Homo sapiens: one gene and its partners. The protein of the gene in region 3 purifies or fractionates together with the protein of the main gene of each other region. This does not show direct contact. Each region holds a gene or a part of one and is shown on either strand. Other genes may lie near its edges.

Region 1 (7,024 bases), on a different chromosome or scaffold from region 3:
CTCCCAAAGACTATGCTAGATTTTTTAATGCATTATTGTGATGGTTAATATTGACTGTCAACGTGATTGGATTGAAGGATGAAAAGTATTTTTCCTGGGTATGTCTGTGCAGGTATTGCCAAAGGAGATTAACATTCAAGTCGGTGGACTGGGAGAGGCAGACCCACCCTCAGTCTGAGTGGGCACCATCTAATCAGCTTCCAGAGTGGCTAGAATAAAAGCAGGCAGAAGTTGGAAGGACTTGACTTGCTGAGTCTTCCAGCCTTCATCTTTCTCCGGCACTGGATGCTTCCTGCCTTCAAACATCAGCTTCCAAGTTCTTCAGCTTTTGAACTCTTGGACTTATACCAGTGGTTTGCCAGAGGCTCTTGGGCCTTTGGCCACAGACTGGAGGCTGCACTGTCAGCTTCCTAACTTGTGAGGTTTTGGGACTCAGACTGATCCATCACTGGCTTCCTTGCTCCTCAATTTGCGGACGGCCTATCATGGGACTTTATCTTGTGATCATGTGAGTCAATTCTCCTTAATAAACTCCCTTTCATATATACATATGTCCTATAAGTTCTGTCCTTCTAGAGAACACTGATTAATACAATTATCTTATTTATCATTTATAAGCACTCTAAGGTAGATATTATTATTATTCTCACTTTATACATATCAAAAGGGAAGCTGTAAGAGACCAAGTAATCCACCCAAGATTAAGTAGTGAACCCATTATTTAAACTCAGGCATTCTGACTTGTAAGAACCATGGTTTTAACCATAATCTTATGCCACCTCCTACAAGGTGCGTGTGCCATGTCTTGACACTCAGTTGAGAACCATGATGTACCTAAGGTCAAGGAAATCTGCCATACCAGTATTTCTCTACTTCTCTAACAATGACATTTTAAGTTACACATACAAATAATGCCAGCAAAACAAACACAATAACTTACCAAATGGTGCAGTATGGTATTAGTCCTTTTGAATGCATTAAACCTGAAACAAATGTGGAAAACAATGAGAACAGTAATGTGGGTAGTCATGTCTCAGTTGACAAATAGTATATCACCTTTTGTTTCAGCCTCTTCTAAAAGGTATTACCAGAACAAAAAGTTTTAAAAGGTTTAGCTCTCATTCACTGCTGGTAGGAACATTAAATGGTACAGCCACTTTGCACATGAATTTTATGGTAACTTTATTCATAACTGCCAAAATGTGGACGTAACCAAGATGTTCTTCAATGGTTGGAAGACAAACCAATTTCAATACAACCATATAAAATATTATTCAGCCATGAAAAAAAGAAAAGAGCTATTATGCCACAAAAAAAATTGGACGAAACTTAAATGCATACATACTACTAAGCAAAAGAAGCCAGTCTGAAAAGGCTACATACTCTCATTTCAACTGTATGATATTCTGAAAAGGGCAAAATTATGAAATCAGTAGAAAGATCAATGGTTGCCAGGGGTTTGGGGGACGGAAGGAGGGATGAACAGTTGAAACACAGGAGATGTTTAGGGCAGTGAAACTAATCTGTATGATACTGTAATGGTTGATACATGTCCTTATTATTTGTCAAACTTTTCTGCTCAAATTTGCAGGTCATTTTTTCCATCAACTTATAACTACTCTAAAAAATAAAGTCATTAATCTTAAGAAAAAAGGTTTGTTAAAGATGCAATACAAACAGCATTCTCAGACACTAGAGAGAGGTATAAATTGGTACTGCCTTTCCGGTAAACAGTCTGGAAATACAAATCCACAGCCTTTAAAATGATCACACCCTTCAATCCACTAATTCCGCAAGCATTTGCACTAGGGAAATCTCAGAAATATGACCAAAGTCTGATTGATAAATATGTTCACATTATTTACAGGATGGAAAAACTGAAAACAAAGTAAATGTCTAAGAGTAGAGCATTATTTTAAAGACTGTGTCTATTAATACAGCCATTACACAACCACTAAAAATACTAACATGGAAAAGTAGTGACAAATCACAAAAGGAGAGCAGGCTACAAAACAATAAACACAACACACTTCTATTTTTTGCTGTCTTAAAAGTGCTTGTTGGGCTAGGAATACAAAGCCTGAGACACAGCTTGACCAAAGTGACCACTAATAATGGACATGAGAATGGTGAGGGTGGGGGCACCTGGGAAGGGGCATGAACAAACACGGAATGTTGGAAATTGTCTCTATCCCAATGCTGATTACAGGACTGCAGGTATAAGTTCACTAAGCTATAAACTTCAGAACGGTGTACTCAAGTGCCTTATGTAAATTATAATAAGAAAGTAAAAGACAACACCGGGAACGGCAGTGATTGAGAGAGGCATGAGGAGGGCCTCTGGAATGCTTGTTTCTCGATCCAGGTGCTGGTGATTTAGGTATGTTTCATTTGTGAAAATTCATCAAGTTGTATCATTATGCTTTGGGCTTTTTAAAAAATGTCCTAAAAGACATAGCTCTTGCACTCGAGAAACCCACAACGTAATGACAGATGTGCAAATAAAAACACTATAGTTAGAATATACTAAGATGCATGCTTTTTGTTTAAGAAGCTAAATTTAAGATCTATGGAAAGAGGTCAAAGCTAGAATCAGTAGCTGCAGCAGCCTGATAAGGGCTGTGCACATGTGCAGATACATATACCAACTAATGGAACTGATAAACTGACAATCTGTTAATTTTTCAAGAATACTCTGAGATTATATGAAGACCAACAGCCTGAGGTTTCACAAAAGGCAATATCACCAGTTACCACTTGTAACAACTTGGATGACTGAATTTATAAAAATATTTGTAATCCAACTTGCCTTTCAGAATTTATATGACTTTTTTATATTACATTCAAATTGAATAATACTATACAAAAGAGAGAAACAACCTATTTGTTTAAGTCAGTTATAATTCACATTCCTGAACTAGCATTTTCTGAATTTGTCTCACAAGTAAAATGTAGCCCAGTAATTCCAAGACTGGTCTGTACATTAGAATCACCTGGAGACTCGGCTGGGCATGGTGACTCATGCCTGTAATCCCAGCACTTTGGGAGGCCAAGGCAGGCGGATCACCTGAGGTCAGGAGTTTCAGACCAGCCTGGCCAACAAGGCGAAACCCCGTTTCCACTAAAAGTACAAAAATTAGCCAGGCATGGTGGTGGGCGCCTGTAATCCCAGCTACTCAGGAGGCTGAGGCAGGAGAATAGCTTAAACCTGGGAGGCAGAGTGTAGAAAGTAAAAAGTTTCCTCTTCAAAGTTTTTCTTCCTGTTAAAGAATAAATCATAACTGTTAGAAATAATAATTTCTTTTAAAGACTAACTTTCTTCATGCCTCCTTGCTTTGTGCTAGTAACTCTTTGTTAAGCCCTATCCTACGTAACTATTGGACATGCTCACGGGCATGTTCGAGCTCACAGCCTATTCCCCTTATTTAAAAATGTTATTGCTTCCTTAAACCTTTCATAAGCAACTTCTTTGTTCTTCCCTACACTTACCTATTTAGGCTATTAGCATATTGGGTATCAGTTTAAGAGTGTGAGGTCCCACTCCAGCCAATGGATGCAGGACACAGCATTAAGGACAACCCAAATGCGTAAGGGATAAATATGTCTGCTTTTCCTTTGTCAAGTGTGCTCTCGCCATTGTTCCATCTGCAATTGGGGACCCTTTCTGCAGAAAGTAAAAATGGCCTTGCTGATAAATCTTTTGCCTCCGTGCTGACTTTTCTTCACAACACCACTTATCTAACAATTTTGGTATTTCTAACACAGAGGTTGCAGTGAGCCGAGATTGTGCCACTGCACTCCAGCCTGGGTGACAAGAGACTCTGTCTCACAAAAAAAAAAAAAAAAAAAAAGGAATCACCTGGAGACTGCTAAAAATTCCAAAGCCCAGGTCACACCCAAGACCAATTAAATCAAACTCTGGAGGTGGGGCACAGGCACAGATACTTTGTTTGAAGCTCCCCTAAATGATTTCAAAGAACGAAGCTGTCATTAAAAATCAACACTAACACTTTATAATTATGAAACTGAAGTGACAGATCATATCTTATTTAGGGATACTTTCTAAATAAGGTTTTCATAATTACTTTTAAAGTGTGAACTACACTACCCTAAAACACCACGTCTAAAATGTTTTCAACTTGACTCAATTTTATCTTTCTGGAGATTTTAAGCATAAAAATCCAGAATGACTTTGGATTCCTTAATGAGGCCAGTACCCAAATGTAGGTTCAAGGTTCAAGAGGGTGTTGCCAGATTTGCAACTATTATGTAACAGTGTAAGTACTAACTGCAGTGTTTTAACAAGTAAACAAAGAGAACTCAGGACTAACTCCAAGTCCCAGTTTTATATATAAGACAGAATTTTATTTAACTCAAAGAAAGTTAATGTAAACCTATCAAACAAAGCCACTGTACACAATATTTATAGGTCACAAAAATCTGTGGACCAGTTACTACAAAAAAAATATATATATATGTATATATACATATATATGTGTATATATATGTATATATGTATATATACATATATATGTGTATATATACGTATATATATACGTATATATGTGTATATATATGTATATATATACGTATATATGTGTATATATATATACACACACAACCAAATTCCTTGTCAAATACTATATAATCACATTGCTTCCATTTGGTTGGTTGGTTGGTTTTGAGACAGAGTCTTGCTGTGTCACCCAGGCTGCAGCGCAGTGGCACGATCTCAGCTCACTGCAACCTCTGCCTCCCAGGTTCCAGCAATTCTCCTGCCTCAGCCTCCCGAGTAGCTGGGATTGCAGGCATGCGTCACCACACCCGGCTTATTTTTGTATTTTTAGTAGAGACGAGGTTTCTCCATGTTGGCCAGGCTAGTCTTGAACTCCCAACCTCAGGTGATCCGCCCACCTGGGCCTCCCAAAGTGCTGGGATGACAGGTGTGAGCCACCGCACCCAGCCCATTCGTTCTAATTCAAATTCAGCTGTCACTTAAAATTTGATATTAGCTTTTATACCTCAAAATGTAATTGAGAATTCAGTGTCCCCAGGTAATTCTGAATTTATGATCTTTCTTTTCTATTGGTTCCAAAACTGCCATCTGGTGGAGAGGAAGAGGGCATGCACCTCTCCGCTCCTTTTTTTTTTTGAGCCTGAGTCTCTCTCTGTCGCCCAGGCTGGAGTGCAGTGGTGCAATCTCGGCTCACTGCAGGCTCTGCCTTCCGGGTTCACGCCATTCTCCTGCCTCAGTCTCCTGAGTAGCTGGGACTACAGGTGCCTGCCACCATGCCCGGCTAATTTTTTGTATTTTTAGTAGAAACGGGGTTTCACCATGTTAGCCAGCATGGTCATGATCTCCTGACTTCTTTCTTGATCCGCCCGCCTCAGCCTCCCAAAGTGCTGAAATTACAGGCATGAGCCACTGTGCCCGGCCTGCTACTTCTAATTTCTTAATTAACTTTATCAGGCTTATTTCCTTCAACTGATGTCAACTTGGCTTTTTAGAACAGTTATTCTCAAAGTATGGTTCTTGGACAAGTACCATCAACATCCCCTGGAAACTGACTAGAAACTGAAATTCTCTGCCCCACCCCAGACCTACTGAACAAGAAACTGTGGGGCCCAGAAATCTGTGTTTAACAAACCCTCCAGGTGGTTATGATGCGTGAAGTTTAAATAAACAACTGTCTTAGATGAGAACTTTATCACTCAGGAACTTTTTGCAATTATCCAATAAAACAAACATGGCCTCACGAAATTAAACAACTACATGAAACTGCTTAAGCAGGAAGAAGACATCACAAAGTAGTGCTTAGTGAAAATTATTATCCCAGAAGTAGGCAAGGTGTGAACAGAGCAGAAAATCAAGTCCAGGAGGCCAATAATTTAGGCATGGGGTGATGAAGAACAGCAGATGTGGAAACAGAAGGGAGTGATATTATTAAGAGTTTTTATAAAGTAAAAACTCAATGGAAAGGAATGTCAAAAATGACTTTAAGATTTCAAGCCAGGACAACCAGGAGAATATAGAAAAGACAGGGAAAGAAGCTAGCTGGTTTGCAGGACGAAATACAAATTCAATTTTTTGAATTTGAATTTGTACTGACATAAGCAGAAATAGTCAACAGAAGAAAGAGACTAGAGGTTGAAAGAAAAGTTAGAACTAAAGGTATATCTTATGCCACATGCATGTACAATCACTGAGACACTGGAATCTCTCAGCTTTCTGTAAGGAATAAATGAGAAGGCTGCAGTTGAAAACTAATTGCCAGAAAGATGCCAACTGTAACTGTGGTATTGGTCAGCAGCATTTTATTTTTGTATTCTATTTATTTATTTATTTTTAGAGACAGGGTCTCACTCTGTCACCCAGGCTGGAGTGCAGTGGTATGATACATGGGCTCAAATGCAGCCTCAATCTCCTGGACTCAAGCCTCCTGAACAGCTAAGACTACAGGCGCACACCACCACACCTGGCTGATTTTTAAATTTTTTGTAGAGAGACAGTCTATGTTGCCCAGGCTGGTCTCAAATTCATGGGCTGTGATCCTCCAGCCTCAGCCACCCAAAGTGCTGGCATTACAGACTTGAGTCACCATGCCCAGCCGAGCAGTTTTAAAACTACTAACATTATCTGGATGGAATGGTAGAGATTAAAAAGAAGAAAAACAGAAAAAAACTACTAACATTTAAAAATCAAGACATTTCACCTAAAACTGCACTTTTTCCAGGTTTTCCAGAAAAATCAGTAATAATGGAAACCCTGGGTCTATATTCTATAAGGGCAACAATGGCTGGGGCTGAGAAGCTGCCTCCTCTCTAGAGCACTCTCTCCAGTTCACCAGTCCCCCATGCTGCCATCTAGCCAGCATCTTTCAATGCTTCCTTCTCAGCCTCTGCATTCAGGCTCATGATTCCTAACACAGAAAACAACCTAAAAGAGCAACAAAGATTGAGCCTTTGATCAACTAAGAAACAACTAACTAGAAGTAAAAGAGAAGACAGGCAAAGAGCAAGAACC
Region 2 (7,495 bases), on a different chromosome or scaffold from region 3:
GACGGGGTTTCACCATGTTAGCCAGGATGGTCTCAATCTCCCGACCTCGTGATCCGCCTGCCTTGGCCTCCCAAAGTGCTGGGATTACAGGCATGAGCCACTGTGACCGGCAAATAATTTTTAAAGCTAATATTTTTATAAGTAGTTACAATGCACCAGATACTGCCTATATATATAACTAATTTAATCCTCACAACCTTATGAGGTAGATACTAGCATTTCTATTCTACACTTGAGGAAACAGGCACAGATAAGTGGAAGTGACTCACCCAAGGTCCTACCAAACTGTTGAGTAGCAGAACCCTGCCAATTTGGCATTAGTGGCCGGCTATTTAATCATGACTCCACGCTACCTTTCAAATAAAAGCAGATGGTAAGGAAAGGACAGCTGTGAGGACTGAACCATTAAGCACATTCCCCTAACAGAGAAAGGGAATTGCAAAGGTGGCAGAACAAACACAGTAACAGATGAGTTTTAAGGTGGAATTAAAAAAAAAACTTTAGGCCGGGCGCCATGTCTCACGCCTGTTATCTCAGCACTTTGGGAGGCCGAGGCGGGTAGATCATTTGAGGTCGGAAGTTGGAGACCAGCCTGGCAAACATGGTGAAACCCCGTCTCTACCAAAGATACAAAAAATTAGCTGGGTGTGGTGGCACGCACCTGTGGTCCCAGGTACTCATGGTGCGGCCACCATTGCATCTTGGGCCTCACTAACCAGTTCCCGTTTGTTGGATTCAATACTCTCTCACCACACAGGCCAATCTTGTGTTTTATTAATTTTTTTAATTTTTTTTTTTTTTTTGTAGAGAGGGGCTCACTATGTTGCCCAGGCTGGTCCTGAACTCCTGAGGTAGGAGGATCGCTTGAGCCTGGGAGACAGAGGTTGCAGTGAGCCGAGATTATGCTACTGCACTCCTGCCTGGGTGACACAGTGAGACTCTGTCTTAAACAAAACAAAACAAAGAAAGGCCAGGCGCAGGGGCTCACACCTGTAATCCTAGCACTTTGGGAGGCCAAGGTGGGTGGATTATTTGAGGTCAGGAGTTTGAGACCAGCCTGATCAGCATGGTGAAACCCCGTCTCTACTAAAAACAGAAAAATTAGCCAGGTGTCGTGGCTTGCACCTGTAGTCCCAGCTACTCAGGAGGCTGAGACAGGAAAATTGCTTCAACCAGGGAGATGGAGGCTGCAGTGGGCAGATTCGCGCCACTGCCTGGGTGACACAGTGAGACTCCATCTCAAAAAAGCCCAGGGTGCTTGGCGCCAAAAAAGGGATCTCTGACCTTGTGTTCATTATGACCTTCAAAAGAGTGAAGTGGTGAGGGCATGAGGGCAGAGGAAAAGAAGGGCTTAAGACAACGAAGGAAAAGAAGGCACCAGAGTCTAGTGCCTTTGCCGCCAAACCTAAACCTATAAGGTTGGCAGCAAAACCAAAGCACAAACTGATAACAAAGGAGGTAAAGCCAGGGGAGAAGAAACTGAAGACGTCAAAGACAGAAATGAAGCACATCATCTGGTTTAAAACAAATGATAGAGTTTTTACAGTTCTGGAAAATGACCGTATAATATTCTCTGCTAAGAAGAATAACTTCTGCTAAACAACCATAAGACTGCAGCTGGCTCTACTCAGATCTGCTTATTCCAACAAGACCAAGGTGCTAGTTCTAACTTCGAGTTGTCCCTCTGTATGGCTGCAGCGTTGCGCACAGTGGACTGCCGGTCACAAGGAAGACTGGATGAGCGTGGGTTCACACAACATTTCCCACACTTGCCTCAGCAAAAGAACCACCTGGGACACTTGTTTAAAAATGACAGATTCCCACGGTCCACCTCGGCAGATTCTGATCCTGCCACTCCAGGGAGCTGTATTTTTCAACAAGTACACCAGGTGATCACGCAAGTTTAAGAAATTAACACAAGTTGGCCGAGCGCAGTGGCTCACGCCTGTAATCCCAGCACTTTGGGAGGCTGAGGCGGGAGAATCACGAGGTCAGGAGTTCGAGACCAGCCTGGCCAACATAGTGAAACCCCGTCTCTACTAAAAACACAAAAATTAGCCGGGCGTGGTGGCGCACACCTGTATTCCCAGCTACTTGGGAGGCTGAGGCAGGAGAATTGCTTGAACCCAGGAGGCAGAGGTTGCAGTGAGCCGAGATCGCGCCACTGCACTCCCGCCTGGGCGACAGAGTGAAACTCTGTCTCGGAAAAAAGAAAAAAAAAGAAAAAAGAAATTAACACAAGTCCCTGCCACTGGAAAAGCTTATCCGTCAGGCTGGCTCCTCCTCCACCACCAGACCCCATCCCGGTACATCACGTTTACATGCATGCGGAAAATGGGCTTGGAGATTCTTGATTCAAATCCGAGGTATCACACATCGGCCCCCAAAGGTCAAACATTAAGAAGGAAGCTTACTGCCCTGTCCCAGATTTTTCTAGGTGACTTCTTCCTCCGGACTCTGCAGCAGTCTTTAGTTCTAAAAGCACAAGCGGACCGCACGTCTCAACGCGGGAAAACAGTTCCATCTGCAGGGATGGAGGACCGGGCTAGACAAGCTGGAGTTGGCTCTGCGCCGCAGGGGTGTGCAAGCCCGAGACGGGGGAGCCCGAGGTCACCCCGGCCGCCCTGGCATCGGGGCTGAAGTGCAGGCTCCTGGAGGAGCGGTGCGCACGCCCAGGGGTAGCCGAGAACACAAGCCAAGGCACGAGCGGACAACCTTACGGGGACGAGTACTGGCGCCCGGACGCGACTTCGCGAGAGGCCAGGCGGAACCCACTGGAAGCGTGAGCTAGCGGGGACCACCCCCGGGCGAAACCAAAGGAGAAAGAGGGGAACCCAGGGGTCCCGGGGCGCTTAGGCCCGCGCGGACGGGGAGGCCAGAGTTGCCCCGAAGCTATCTCCTTACCTCACCGGTCCCCACGGGCTCCGCGCTCAGCTACAGCCCGGCGGGAGCAATGCGGCAGCCACAACAGTTGCCTGGGGTCGCCGCGGGCCGGAAAGCGGGGTTCGGGGATGGGAAGGGGGCGGGGCGAAGCGAGCAAAAAGTTCCGGGGAAGCCGAGACCGCGACCTTCCGCGCTTTACGGCCCCCGGGCAAGGGTACTGCCGGCGCGTGACCTCAGCAGCGCACGAGCGCGCCGTGACGCCTTCGCGGAGCCCCGCCCCTGCCACGTGGGCTTGTTTGGGTCTCGCGAGGCACCGCCCCCGCGGCCTCTTTGCCACCCTCAGAGGCGAGCTGTGGAAGCCTTGACTCTTAGGGCCGTTTTAGAACCGGGGCCTCGGACCGGCGGGGTTTCTGCACGTGGAACCGGAACATCTGAGATGATCGCAGGCCCTGTGGAGTGTGGGGAGCGCGGGAGTTCTTTCTTCCCTCGAGGCCCGTGCCAGGGCTTACTCCAAAGCCAGTGGGTCCCCAGTCCTAAGCCAAGCAGTCCCGGGGGAAAACGCTTCTCATCGCCGTGGGAGCGCGGATCTTGGAAGTGGCTCTGGGCTTTCTTGGGCGAGGCTCTCACAGAGTAGATCGGAAATCCATTCTGCTGGCCCGCCCCACCTCGGAGGACGGACTAACGGACCTGAGTTCCCGGCCCTATCTTACTCTTCTCAGCTTCTCAGCTTGGCTCAGCTCAGAGGAAGAGGAATCACTGAAGTCTCAGAGAAGTCTCCACTCATCCCTTCCTCACTGTCACATCAGCCTTTTCTTTCCTTCTAGAACTCATCACTGACTCAAGGATATAAGTTTGATGACTGTCTTTTCCACTGGTGTGACACGATCTCTGTCGACAGAACCTTAGTCTTATGCATAGCTTTATTCTCAGCACCCAGAACAGTGCCTGGCACCTCTTCCACTGAATATTATATGCATAAGGGTCTCATGCTGCAGCCACCATTGCATCTTGGGCCACACTATCCAGTTCCCGTTTGTTGGATTCAATACTGTCTCACCACACAAACCAATCTTGTGTTTTATTAATTTAAAAAAAATTTTTTTTTTGTAGAGATAGGCTCACTATGTTGCCTAGGCTGGGCCTGAACTCCTGGCCTCAAGTGATCCTTCCATCTCAGCCTCCCAAAGTCCTGGGATTACAGGCGTGAGCCACTGTGCCTGCCCCAATCTTGTGTTTTATTGCTGGCCACCTGTAGCCAGGCACTGTGCAGGATGATGGGATCCAGCAATGTACAAGAAAGAGGCGGTTTCTGCTCTTAGGGAGTGGCAGTCAAGTTCCAGGGACCCCTCTGTCACAAGGCCAGGCCACAGCCTACATAGTTTATACCCCATTTACTGGCCAGTCAAATCACACAAAGACAGCCCAGATGAGGTCTGCCAGACAGTGGACTGAAACTATGCCATAGGCTCCTGTGCTAGATAAATACTTCCATATTTTAGCTAGGATTGAATGCTTGGGGACACCTACCTGTCTAAAAAAAGAGAAAACGGCTGACCAATTTGAGACATTCTCGGGGAAGGCTTTCCTGATGCCCAGATGTGGCGATTTCATGAAAAATATCACAGGTTTTCCTCATGAACCATTTGGTTCAAGCCATTTCCAGGCACATGAATTTGGGAGAAACCTGGTTGTCTGCAGGAGATGGTGGATGAAATCAAGTGAAATACTTAATGTGTTGATTTCATTCTGTTTACGTGCAGTAAATAGCAAACAAATGGTGTAGATCTGTCCCTGATTTCCTTCTCCATCACCATGATCGGCCTCCACTCCAAAATGCTAAGTCAGGCTGGGTGCGGTGGCTCATGCCTGTAATGCCAGCACTTTGGGAGGCCAAGGCAGTTGGATCACGTGAGGTCAGAAGTTCGAGACCAGCCTGATCAATATGGTGAAACCCCATCTCTACTAAAAAATACAAAAATTAGCTGGGCGTGGTGGCACATGCCTGTAATCCCAGCTACTTTGGGAGGCTGGGACAGGAGAATTGCTTAAACCCAGGAGGCGGAGGTTGCAGTGAGCCAAGATTGTGTCACTGCACTCTAGCCTAGGCGACAGAGCGAGACTGTCTCAAAAAAAAAAAAAAAAGGGAAGTAAGTCCTAAGGCCCCTTTCATTGTCAAAGATGGGTCTTGTCCTTAGTAGGTTCTCATAACCACTGATGCACTATTTTTTCTAGGGGATTGAGTGTTTTTATTTTATTATTATTTTTTAGATGGAGGCTCACTCTGTTGCCCAGGCTGGAGTGCAATGGTGTGGTCTCGGTTCACTGCAACCTCTGCCTCCCAGGTTCAGGGGATTCTCCTACCTCAGCCTCCCCAGTAGCTGGGACTGTACAGGCGTGCGCCACCACGCTGGGCTAATTTTTGTATTTTTATTAGAGACAGGGTTTCGCTATGTTGGCCAGGCTGGTCTCAAACTCCTGACCTCGTGATCTGCCCACCTAGGCCTCCCAAAGTGCTGGAATTACAGGCGTGAGCCACCGCGTCCAGCCTATTTTTATTTTTTGAGATTAGCTCTCACCCTGTCACCCAGGCTGGAGCACAGTGGTGCAATCACGGCTCACTGCAGTCTTAACTTCCTGGGCTCTAGCGATTCTCCCACCTCAGCCTCCCGAATAGCTGAGACCTCAGGCGCGTGCCACCGTCCCCAGCTAACTTTTGTATTTTTTGGTAGAGGTGGGGTTTCACTATGTTGCTGAGGCTGGCATTAAACTCCTGACCTCAAGAGATCCACCTGCCTTGGCCTCCCAATGTGCTGGGATTAGAGGCATGAGCCACCATGTCTTGCCCTAAACAGACGTTTTAATTACGCTTGTCAAGTCCTCTTGTGAAATCTTCATCTGCAGTGACTTGGTAAATGTATTTGCTACCACACAGGATAAACAGTGTACAGACAAACATTTGACATACCTATGTTACCACAGTGTAAGAATGAATTTGGATCTGAGGTCGCTAAGATGCAGGCGTTTATCTTACCTCCCTGCAGCACCGGCATGGCTGTGGGGAAGGCCTCCCTCCTCCCTCTGAAGTTCTTGTCCCCATCAGTAGACTGGACATCTGCCTACAACCGACTTCACAGAAAGGACCTGACACCTGGCATGCTTCTCGTGTGCTTGAGAGCCTGTGTTTGTGTGGAAAGCAGGGATGTTCTCATTCACACCATGGGAAGAGAAGAATGTTGCGAGTAGCAATCAGTACTCTTTTTTTTTTTTTTTTTTTTTTTTTTTTTGTGAGACGGAGTCTTGCTTTGTCACCCAGGCTGGAGTACAGTGGCGCGATCTCAGCTCACTGCAAGCTCTGCCTCCCGGGTTCACGCCATTCTCCTGCATCAGCCTCCTGAGCAGCTGGGACTACAGGCACATGCCACCATGCCCAGCTAATTTTTGTATTTTTAGTAGAGACGGGGTTTCACCATGTTGGCCAGGATGGTCTCGATCTCTTGATCCACTGCGCCCAGCCAGGAACTTCTTTTTTTTTTTTTTTTTTGAGACGGAGTCTTACTGTGTCGCCAGGCTAGACTGCTGTGGTGCGATCTCGGCTCACTGCAACCTCCAACTCCCTGGTTCAAGGGATTCTCCTGCCTCTGCCTCCTGAGCAGCTGGGATTACAGGCGTGTGCCACCACACCCAGCTAAATTTTGTATTTTTAATAGAGATGGGGTTTCACTATGTTGGCCAGGATGGTCTCGATCTCCTGACCTTGTGATCCGCTCGCCTCGGCCTCCCAGAGTGTTGGGATTACAGGCGTGAGCCACTACACCCGGCCTGGAACTTCTCTCTCTTTTTTTTTTTTTTGAGACGGAGTCTCGCTCAGTCACCCAGGCTGGAGTGCAGTGGCACCATCTCGGCTCGCTGCAAGCTCCGTCTCCTGGGTTCACGCCATTCTCCTGCCTCAGCCTCCCGAGTAGCTGGGGCTACAGGCGCCCACCACTATGCCCGGCTAATTTTTTTGTATTTTTAGTAGAGATGGGGTTTCACCATGTTGGCCAGGCTGGTCTTGAACTCCTGACCTCAAGTGATCCGCCTGCCTTGGCCTCCCAAAGTGCTGGGATTAGAGGCATAAGCCACCACACCCAGCCTCACTAGTTTTATTATCCACTGACTCGACTTGCTTGAGACGATTTTACTATGGTGGTTATCAAATGGTAACTTTCTAATTCTGTAATTCCTTCTGTGTTTATTAGCTCAAGGTCTATGGGATGCAGTGTTGATAGGGTTCTGTCTACTTCACTTGCCTCTGTTCCCAGGGCCTAGCTCTCCAAGTCTTTCAACTGAAATCCCGTAGTATACCCCAGGTTCCCTCCTTTTGAGAGATCTTGAAAACTGTCTACTCAGCTCATTGCAACCTCTGCCTCCCAGGCTCAAGCGATTCTCCTTCTTCAGCCTCCTGAGCTGGGATTACAGGCACACGCCACCATGCCTGGCTAATTTTTGTATTTTTAGCAGAGATGGGGTTTCTCCATGTTGGCCAGGTTGGTCTTGAACTCCTAACCTCAAGTGATCCACCCACCTTGGCCTCCCAAAGTGCTGGAATTACTGATTTCTTTCTTTCTTTTTT
Region 3 (7,024 bases):
TTTTCTTTTTTAATTTTATAATTTTTATATTTCTCTAATTTTTGATTTTAGAGACAGTCTCATTATATTGCCGAGGCTGACCTTGAACTCCTGGGCCCAAGCAGTCCTCCCACCTCAGCCTCTCCAGTAGTTGGGACTGCAGGCATGCACCACTGTGCCAGGCTAAACCGTAACATTTTCTTGTGGTTGATTATGTCACCCTTCAGACTCAGTAGTTCTTGATGTCTTTCCTTGTAGGAAAGCAGCTGCTGTTTTGGATCTCAGTTTGATTGAGGTGGTGACTATCCCTTTGGTACCATTGAGACCAGAAACCAGACCAGTTGGACATTGTTTTTTTCTGGTTATCCTGTCCTGCCTTACTATGAGATTTACGGATGTTTGGGGACACAGGTCTCTGGGCTCATTTCTTTTTCTGAGGATTCATATAATTGCCTAGTTTTTGGCTTAGAGGTTGGTCCTTCCCTGGTTTAATGATGCTTTTGTTCAGACTGTCCTCTAGGACTTGAATTTGAAGCAGAAACAGAACAGCACCTGATCCTCAGTTATACTGCAAAGCAGGGCCTCAGAAAGGGTAACTCCAATTACTGACTTTCACCTAAGGTGAAAAAGCATCCGGCTTCTTTCCCCTTGGCATCTTTGGATCTTCTGAGAATGGTGGCTGAAGGCAGAGGGCCTGGGGACAAGCCAGCCTGGACATGACTCCTCTGCTGCTTATTAATTCCTTACCTGAACTACTCTTGGGACCTCGATTCCTTCATGGGCAAAATGGTCACATAATAGCACCATCACAAGACTTGCCAGGAATCTAGAGCAAGAGGATAACGTCTAAAGCATCTAGCTCAGGTCCTCACATCTGGAAGGTATTAAATACAGGCTAGCTCCTTCCATAGATGCCCATCCAAAGATGCATACATGAGGTGGCAGGGGATTAAACTATATGACCCCTGAGATCCTTTCCAGTTCTTAGCTTTGAGGGGGGTCAATGGCAGTAATTCAGATATATTGTTTATCATAGTTAATTGAGTATCAACATGTCAAATTGGCATTTATTGTGTTACCTTGGGCAAATGATATAACTTAAGTCTTAATTTTCTTCATTCTTGAAATGGGATAGTAAGAGTACCTACCTCATAATGTTATGAAGGTTTAATGAGATAGCCTCATGCCAGGCACAGAGTACACAGTAAGTGCTCAATACTTAACTATTATTGTTAGATGTTGGTTTGCTTATTCTTCTGGCTCTGATTTTTTTCCCCTTTACTCTTTTTGTTTTTGTTTGCATTTCAGGGTGAAACTTCCTACATCCGAGTTTATCCTGAGAGAAGCACCAGCTATGGCTACTCACGGTCTCGGTCTGGGTCAAGGGGCCGTGACTCTCCATACCAAAGCAGGGGTTCCCCACACTACTTCTCTCCTTTCAGGCCCTACTGAGACAGGTGATGGGAATTTTTTCTTTATTTTTTAGGTTAACTGAGCTGCTTTGTGCTCAGAATCTACATTCCAGATTGAGGATTTAGTGTCTTAGGAAATTTTTTTAATTTTTTTTTTTTAAAGAAGAAAAAAAACTACATAATTTCTACCAGGGCCATATTAGCAGTGAAACATTTTAAACTGCAGAAATTGTGGTTTTGGTTCAGAAACAAGTTGTATATTTTTCACCCCTGATTATGGGAAAAAAATCAGTTCTGTCTTTGTGGGTTGCTCTACTATGGAGATCAACAGTTACTGTGACTGAGTCGGCCCATTCTGTTTAGAAATATATTTTAAATGTTTAGTAATTGACATGTGTGGTTGTCCTTGATTAAGTTCACAGATTTCACCAAATAGGCACACTAATTTAAAAAATCACTGAGTTGTAGTCATAACTTGTACCCAGTTAGGAGCAGGGGTAGATAACTTTATTTATATGGGGATAGACAGTTGCTCTGATGTTGGTTTGAGAACGTAAACTCCAAGAGCGGGTTCTGGGTTCTCTTTTAATTCAAGGCCAAGCTTGTAAATTAGGCTGCCTTAAAGAAAAAAGCATTGCAGATAAAGGAAGGGAATGGGAAAAATAAACACACGGTGGCTTTTGCCTGTGATCCTAGCCCTTTGGGAGGCCAAGGCATGCCAGAGGATCCCTTGAGGCCAGGAGTTCACGACCAGATAGGCAACATAGCAAAACCCCCACCTCTACTTAAAAAAAAATTAACTGGACGTGGTGATGCACATATGTAGTCCCAGTTACTTAGGAGGCTGAGGTGGGAGGATCACTTGAGCCCAGGAGTTGGAGGCTGCAGTGATCTGTCACCACTGCACTCCAGCCTGGGTGACAGAGGGAGACCCCTGTCTCAGAAAACTAAAAAAATGAGCAGCAGCATAAATATTATTGGGAAATTCTTAGCCAAAACCAACTTTGGCAGTTTGGTTAGAGGAAAAACTCTCTGATTCTATCACTTTTTTTTTTTTTTTGAGACTTGCTCTGTCGCCCAGGCTGGAGTGCAGTGGTGCGATCTCGGCTTACTGCAAGCTCCGTCTCCCGGGTTCACGCCATTCTCCTGCCTCAGCCTCCCGAGTAGCTGGGACTACAGGCACCTGTCATCACACCCAGCTAATTTTTTGTATTTTTAGTAGAGATGAGGTTTCACCGCATTAGCCAGGATGGTCTTGATCTCCTGACCTTGTGATCCGCCCGTCTCAGCCTCCCAAAGTGCTGGGATTACAGGAGTGAGCCACTGCGCCCAGCCCACTTTTATCCCTAAATAAGTTTCATTTATCCTTGGTATCTGAGTTTTATCCTGGACTCATCTCAATTTAATAATCATTTTGGGGGCGGAGAGGGCTCCTTTGTCCCAGGCCCAGGGCTAATTTTAGGATAAGTTCTCTTTTCAGAAAGAGAAACACTAGGTATGACTAGTATCCCTTTGGCATATAATCACTTTGTGGGATGGCAGATAGTTCTAGGTTAGGAGTTCCCAAGCTCTAGTCTACTTTCAACACTCTTCAGACCTTAGTAGGAAGTTAGCCCTCTTCTGGGAAGAAAGTGGGAGCCCAGGAACAAATTCAGGTATGTTCGGTAAAGATAGGGCTGCTCAAATCAATGCAAATGGCAACTAAAAATGACAGCCAAGGTTGTCACATAGTGATCAAGATGCTCCGTCTACCAGTTACGTAGATAGAAAAGTTCACTTTCATGCAGTTGGTATGGTCCTTTGGGGGGAGTTAAAGGCAGATAAATAATGTCTTCCATACTGAACAGGCCTGTTAAGTGAATTCCTTGGAAGCTGACTTTTGCTTTTCTTTCACCTCAGTTAGCATCAGGAACTCACTGCCTTGTTGGGGCCAGATCTTTCCCAATTCTGTCTTCAGAAGAATCTGTTATTAAGAAATGCTTGAGCATCCATTTTTTCAGGGGACTGAAAAAAGCAGGAACATTAGTATTCACAGTAAAAAAATACTGTCATTATGCTTCCACATGTTCACAGAGTACCCCCTTTCCAGAATGAGCTACTCAGCTGTGTGGGAATGGCTCTTGTTCATCCAGCTTTGGCAAAGAGATATTACCTGTTTGAAAATAACAAAAGAGAATTTTTGTTTGTTTGTTTGTTTTTGTTTTGAGACAGAGTCTCGCTGTTGCCCAGGCTGGAGTGCAGTGGCGCAATCTCAGCTCACTGCAGGCTCCGCCCCCTGGGGTTCACGCCATTCTCCTGCCTCGGCCTCCAGAGTAGCTGGGACTACAGGCGCCCGCCACCTCTCCCGGCTAATTTTTTGTATTTTTAATAGAGACGGGGTTTCACCGTGTTAGCCAGGATGGTCTCGATCTCCTGACCTCGTGATCCGCCCTCCTCGGCCTCCCAAAGTGCTAGGATTACAGGCATGAGCCACCGCGCCCGGCCACAACAGAGAATGTTATAGCTGAGCCTGCCGCCCAGCTGGCTCTACTGAGCTAACTGATCACTACTTTCTCATGGAAAATATGGAAGTAATGTAGCTACTGTCCTGTTTTCCTAACTGGGAGTATCTGAAAGAATCAGTTCTAAGTGTAGCCAAATTCACCTTTTTCAGTAAGGAGTATACAGGTTGATTAGCCACTAATATGCAGATAGGACTAGAAGGAAACACTGACCATGAACTCAGGTGGTCCCAAAAAGCAAAGTCTGAAGTAAGGTTCTGTGTGGGAGATAGCATGTCTGATCAAAAGATATTTCTGCTGGAGCCACAACTATCAGGCTCTGAGATGGAGAGTCTCCTTTCTCTCCACAGTTAACAGGTGGTTTAGTGGATTGGAGGCATGATTAAGAGTTTAGCTCACGGCCGGGTGCGGTGGCTCACACCTGTAATCCCAGCACTCTGGGAGGCCGAAGCGGACGATCACGAGGTCAGGAGAGAGAGACCATCCTGGCTAACACGGTGAAACCCCGTCTCTACTAAAAATACAAAAAATTAGCCAGGCGTTGTGGTGGGCGCCTGTAGTCCTAGCTACTTGGGAGGCTAAGGCAGGAGAATGGCATGAACGTGGAAGGTGGAGCTTGCAGTGAGCCGAGATCGCGCCACTGCACTCCAGCTTGGGCAACAGAGCAAGACTCCGTCTCAAAACAAACAAAAAGTTTAGCTCACAAAATTTCTAGCTTTCTTTCCCATCCTTGCATCAACCAGAGCCTGCCTTTAACTGGCACCTTAAGCTGACCAGGGCCAATGTCTTCTGTGGAGTCTGCTCAGAATGATTCTCCCTCAGGATATCCTGAACTGGAAGTTGGCACTTAGCAGGCTACCTGATTGCTTTTGGCTAGTCCCACTCCCAGATGCCCAGAGGGGTAGTACAACAGCTCCAAGTATTCACCTACCTGCAGAGGAGATAAAAACAGTCAACCTATCCAAGGTTCTGGATTTTACTGTCAGCCCAGAGTAATTTTAAAGCTTCTATTTAAAATATTTACAGTAGGTAGATGATGCAAATCTCTATACCAGCTGTTGTAAACTGATGGCTCACAGACTGCACCTGGCTTGCAGATGTGTTTTATTTGGCTTGGATGGTATTTTGTTTTTTAAATTTTGAATTGGTTGCTAGCACTTAAAATTTAAGAAATATCGGCGGGGTGCAGTGGCTCACCCCTGTAATCCCAGCACTTTGGGAGGCTGAGGCGGGTAGATCACCAGTTCAAGACTAGCCTGGCCAAGATGGTGAAATCCTGCCTCTACTAAAAATACAAAAATATTAGCCAGGCATGGTGGCAGGCACCTGTAATCCCAGCTACTCGGCAGGCTGAGGCAGAGAATTGCTTGAACCCGGGAGGCAGAGGTTGCAGTGAGTCAAGATTGCACTCCAGCCTGGGTGACCGAGCGAGACTCCATCTCAAAAAAAAAAAAAAAAATTTAAGAAATATCACACAAAATGTCAGGTATCCAGGTTCTCTGGAGAAATGGGTTTACATTCCTGCCTGGCAACACTGATAGGGTAGCAGCCATGCTCCTCCTGCTTTGAATGGGCACAGACTGAGGGCAGACCCTAATGGCGTTTGAATCATGTCATAGGCAAAGATGTGACAGAAACATCTGGGCTAAGGCCACACATGATAACTAAGTTGTCACAATAAGATTCGTTTTGGGAGGCCGAGGTGGGTGGATCACCTGAGGTCGGGAGATCGAGACCATCCTGGCTAACACAGTGAAACCCTGTCTCTACTAAAAATACAAAAAATTAGCCAGGCGTGCTGGTGCATGCCTGTAATCCCAGCTACTGGGGAGCCTGAGCAGGAGAATCGCTTGAACCCGGGAGGTGGAGGTTGCGGTGAGCCGAGATTGCACCATTGCACTCCAGCCTGGGCAACAAGAGCGAAACTCCGTCTCAAAAAAAAAAAAAAAAAAAAAGGATTCTTTTAGGAAAGGACTGGTTTTTTTGTGGTACCCAGCCCAAAGCTAGACCTAACAAATATTTATTCATGGTATGAATACTAGAAAGTTGGAGTCGATTACAGGATCTGGCAGGGTCTTAACTGTGGCTTTGAGAAACACTGAATGCCAGCTGCCCCTTTAGGGAGATCTTGAGCTCCAGATTTCCACCTACTTTAAACCTCCCGCATGCCCCCAATCCTGTTTTGCTTGTTCCTGTTACTAACTGCCCCCTAGAGGTGAGTATGACCCTGGACCCTACTGCCACCTTAATGCCACCATCTGTATGCACTTCATCCTTTTCAAAGTGCCTTCACATAGCATCTTTGGTCCTCATGCTTCCTGCTTCATTCCTAAGGTTACTGTGAGACTATCTGTTAAACCATTCTGGGCAGCACGTACCTGGGGGGGCCACAAAGTACTCCTCCACGACGCGATGGGAGTTTTGTAGTAATTCATCAGCACAGTTGCCTTCTACCACATTGTCGGATCTCAGGTATAGACATCTACAAAACCCAGAAGCTCAAGGTTACCCTCTCAGAGAAGGGGGCTTTTAGGGGATGATGGAGAGGGGCAAGAAGGAGAGAACAAGGAAGCAGTATATTCTTGAGTTAATGGGCACTGTTCAAAGATAGAGAAGCTGGGATCAACAGTAGACCAAATAACAGCCTACAGTTTATAGATTGACCGAACAACCCTGAGAAGTAAGTGCTAATTACTTCTCTGGATTGATTTAACAAATAGTTTTTGATGATTATATGGGCAACTGTCTTTTGGTGGGGACAGGTAAAAGCAATTACAAAAACAATATTTTAAATCTAACAGAGGTTAGTACAGCCTGCCAAAGGATAGAAAGGGTACCTAGTCCAGCCTGCGTGAGTAGCACATCCTCAGAATAGCTGATGTCACTGTTCAAGGATGGGCAAGAAATAGCTGGATTGGGGGATGAAGGTATGAGAAATGGACTTCCTGGCACGTATAGCAGCATGAATCCCAAAGCAATAGAGCCGAGAGCTCAGAGATTCAGAGAAGGACAGGGAGTTTAGCAGGCTGGGGTGTGGTCTGCCGGGGTGGAAGATGAAGCTGGAAAGCTAAGCAGAGATGGGGAAGCAAACTTGCCACAAGAGTAACTTAAGGATGTTGGCTGCTAAGTAAC

Evidence for each region.
Region 1: the proteins of GATC (region 3) and HIBCH purify together in Homo sapiens (affinity purification with mass spectrometry; 2 studies listed by BioGRID and IntAct, with this or other methods). This does not show direct contact.
Region 2: the proteins of GATC (region 3) and PDPR purify together in Homo sapiens (affinity purification with mass spectrometry; 2 studies listed by BioGRID and IntAct, with this or other methods). This does not show direct contact.

What each region holds. Positions count from the first base shown.
Region 1 is NC_000002.12:190,309,814-190,316,837, forward strand, and holds part of HIBCH (3-hydroxyisobutyryl-CoA hydrolase, mitochondrial isoform 1 precursor), read right to left. Parts: intron 984-7,024; coding exon 941-983; intron 1-940. UniProt on the Homo sapiens protein: Hydrolyzes 3-hydroxyisobutyryl-CoA (HIBYL-CoA), a saline catabolite. Has high activity toward isobutyryl-CoA. Could be an isobutyryl-CoA dehydrogenase that functions in valine catabolism. Also hydrolyzes 3-hydroxypropanoyl-CoA.
Region 2 is NC_000016.10:70,109,850-70,117,344, reverse strand, and holds the start of PDPR (pyruvate dehydrogenase phosphatase regulatory subunit, mitochondrial isoform 1 precursor), read right to left. Parts: upstream 3,014-7,495; 5' UTR 2,905-3,013; intron 2,525-2,904; 5' UTR 2,415-2,524; exon of another isoform or gene 270-2,414; intron 1-269. UniProt on the Homo sapiens protein: Decreases the sensitivity of PDP1 to magnesium ions, and this inhibition is reversed by the polyamine spermine.
Region 3 is NC_000012.12:120,456,426-120,463,449, reverse strand, and holds part of GATC (glutamyl-tRNA(Gln) amidotransferase subunit C, mitochondrial), read right to left. Parts: intron 6,375-7,024; coding exon 6,271-6,374; intron 3,544-6,270; coding exon 3,491-3,543; 3' UTR 1,432-3,490; coding exon of another isoform or gene 1,288-1,431; 3' UTR 1-1,287. Other genes in the region: SRSF9 (serine/arginine-rich splicing factor 9), read left to right, coding at 1,288-1,431. UniProt on the Homo sapiens protein: Allows the formation of correctly charged Gln-tRNA(Gln) through the transamidation of misacylated Glu-tRNA(Gln) in the mitochondria. The reaction takes place in the presence of glutamine and ATP through an activated gamma-phospho-Glu-tRNA(Gln).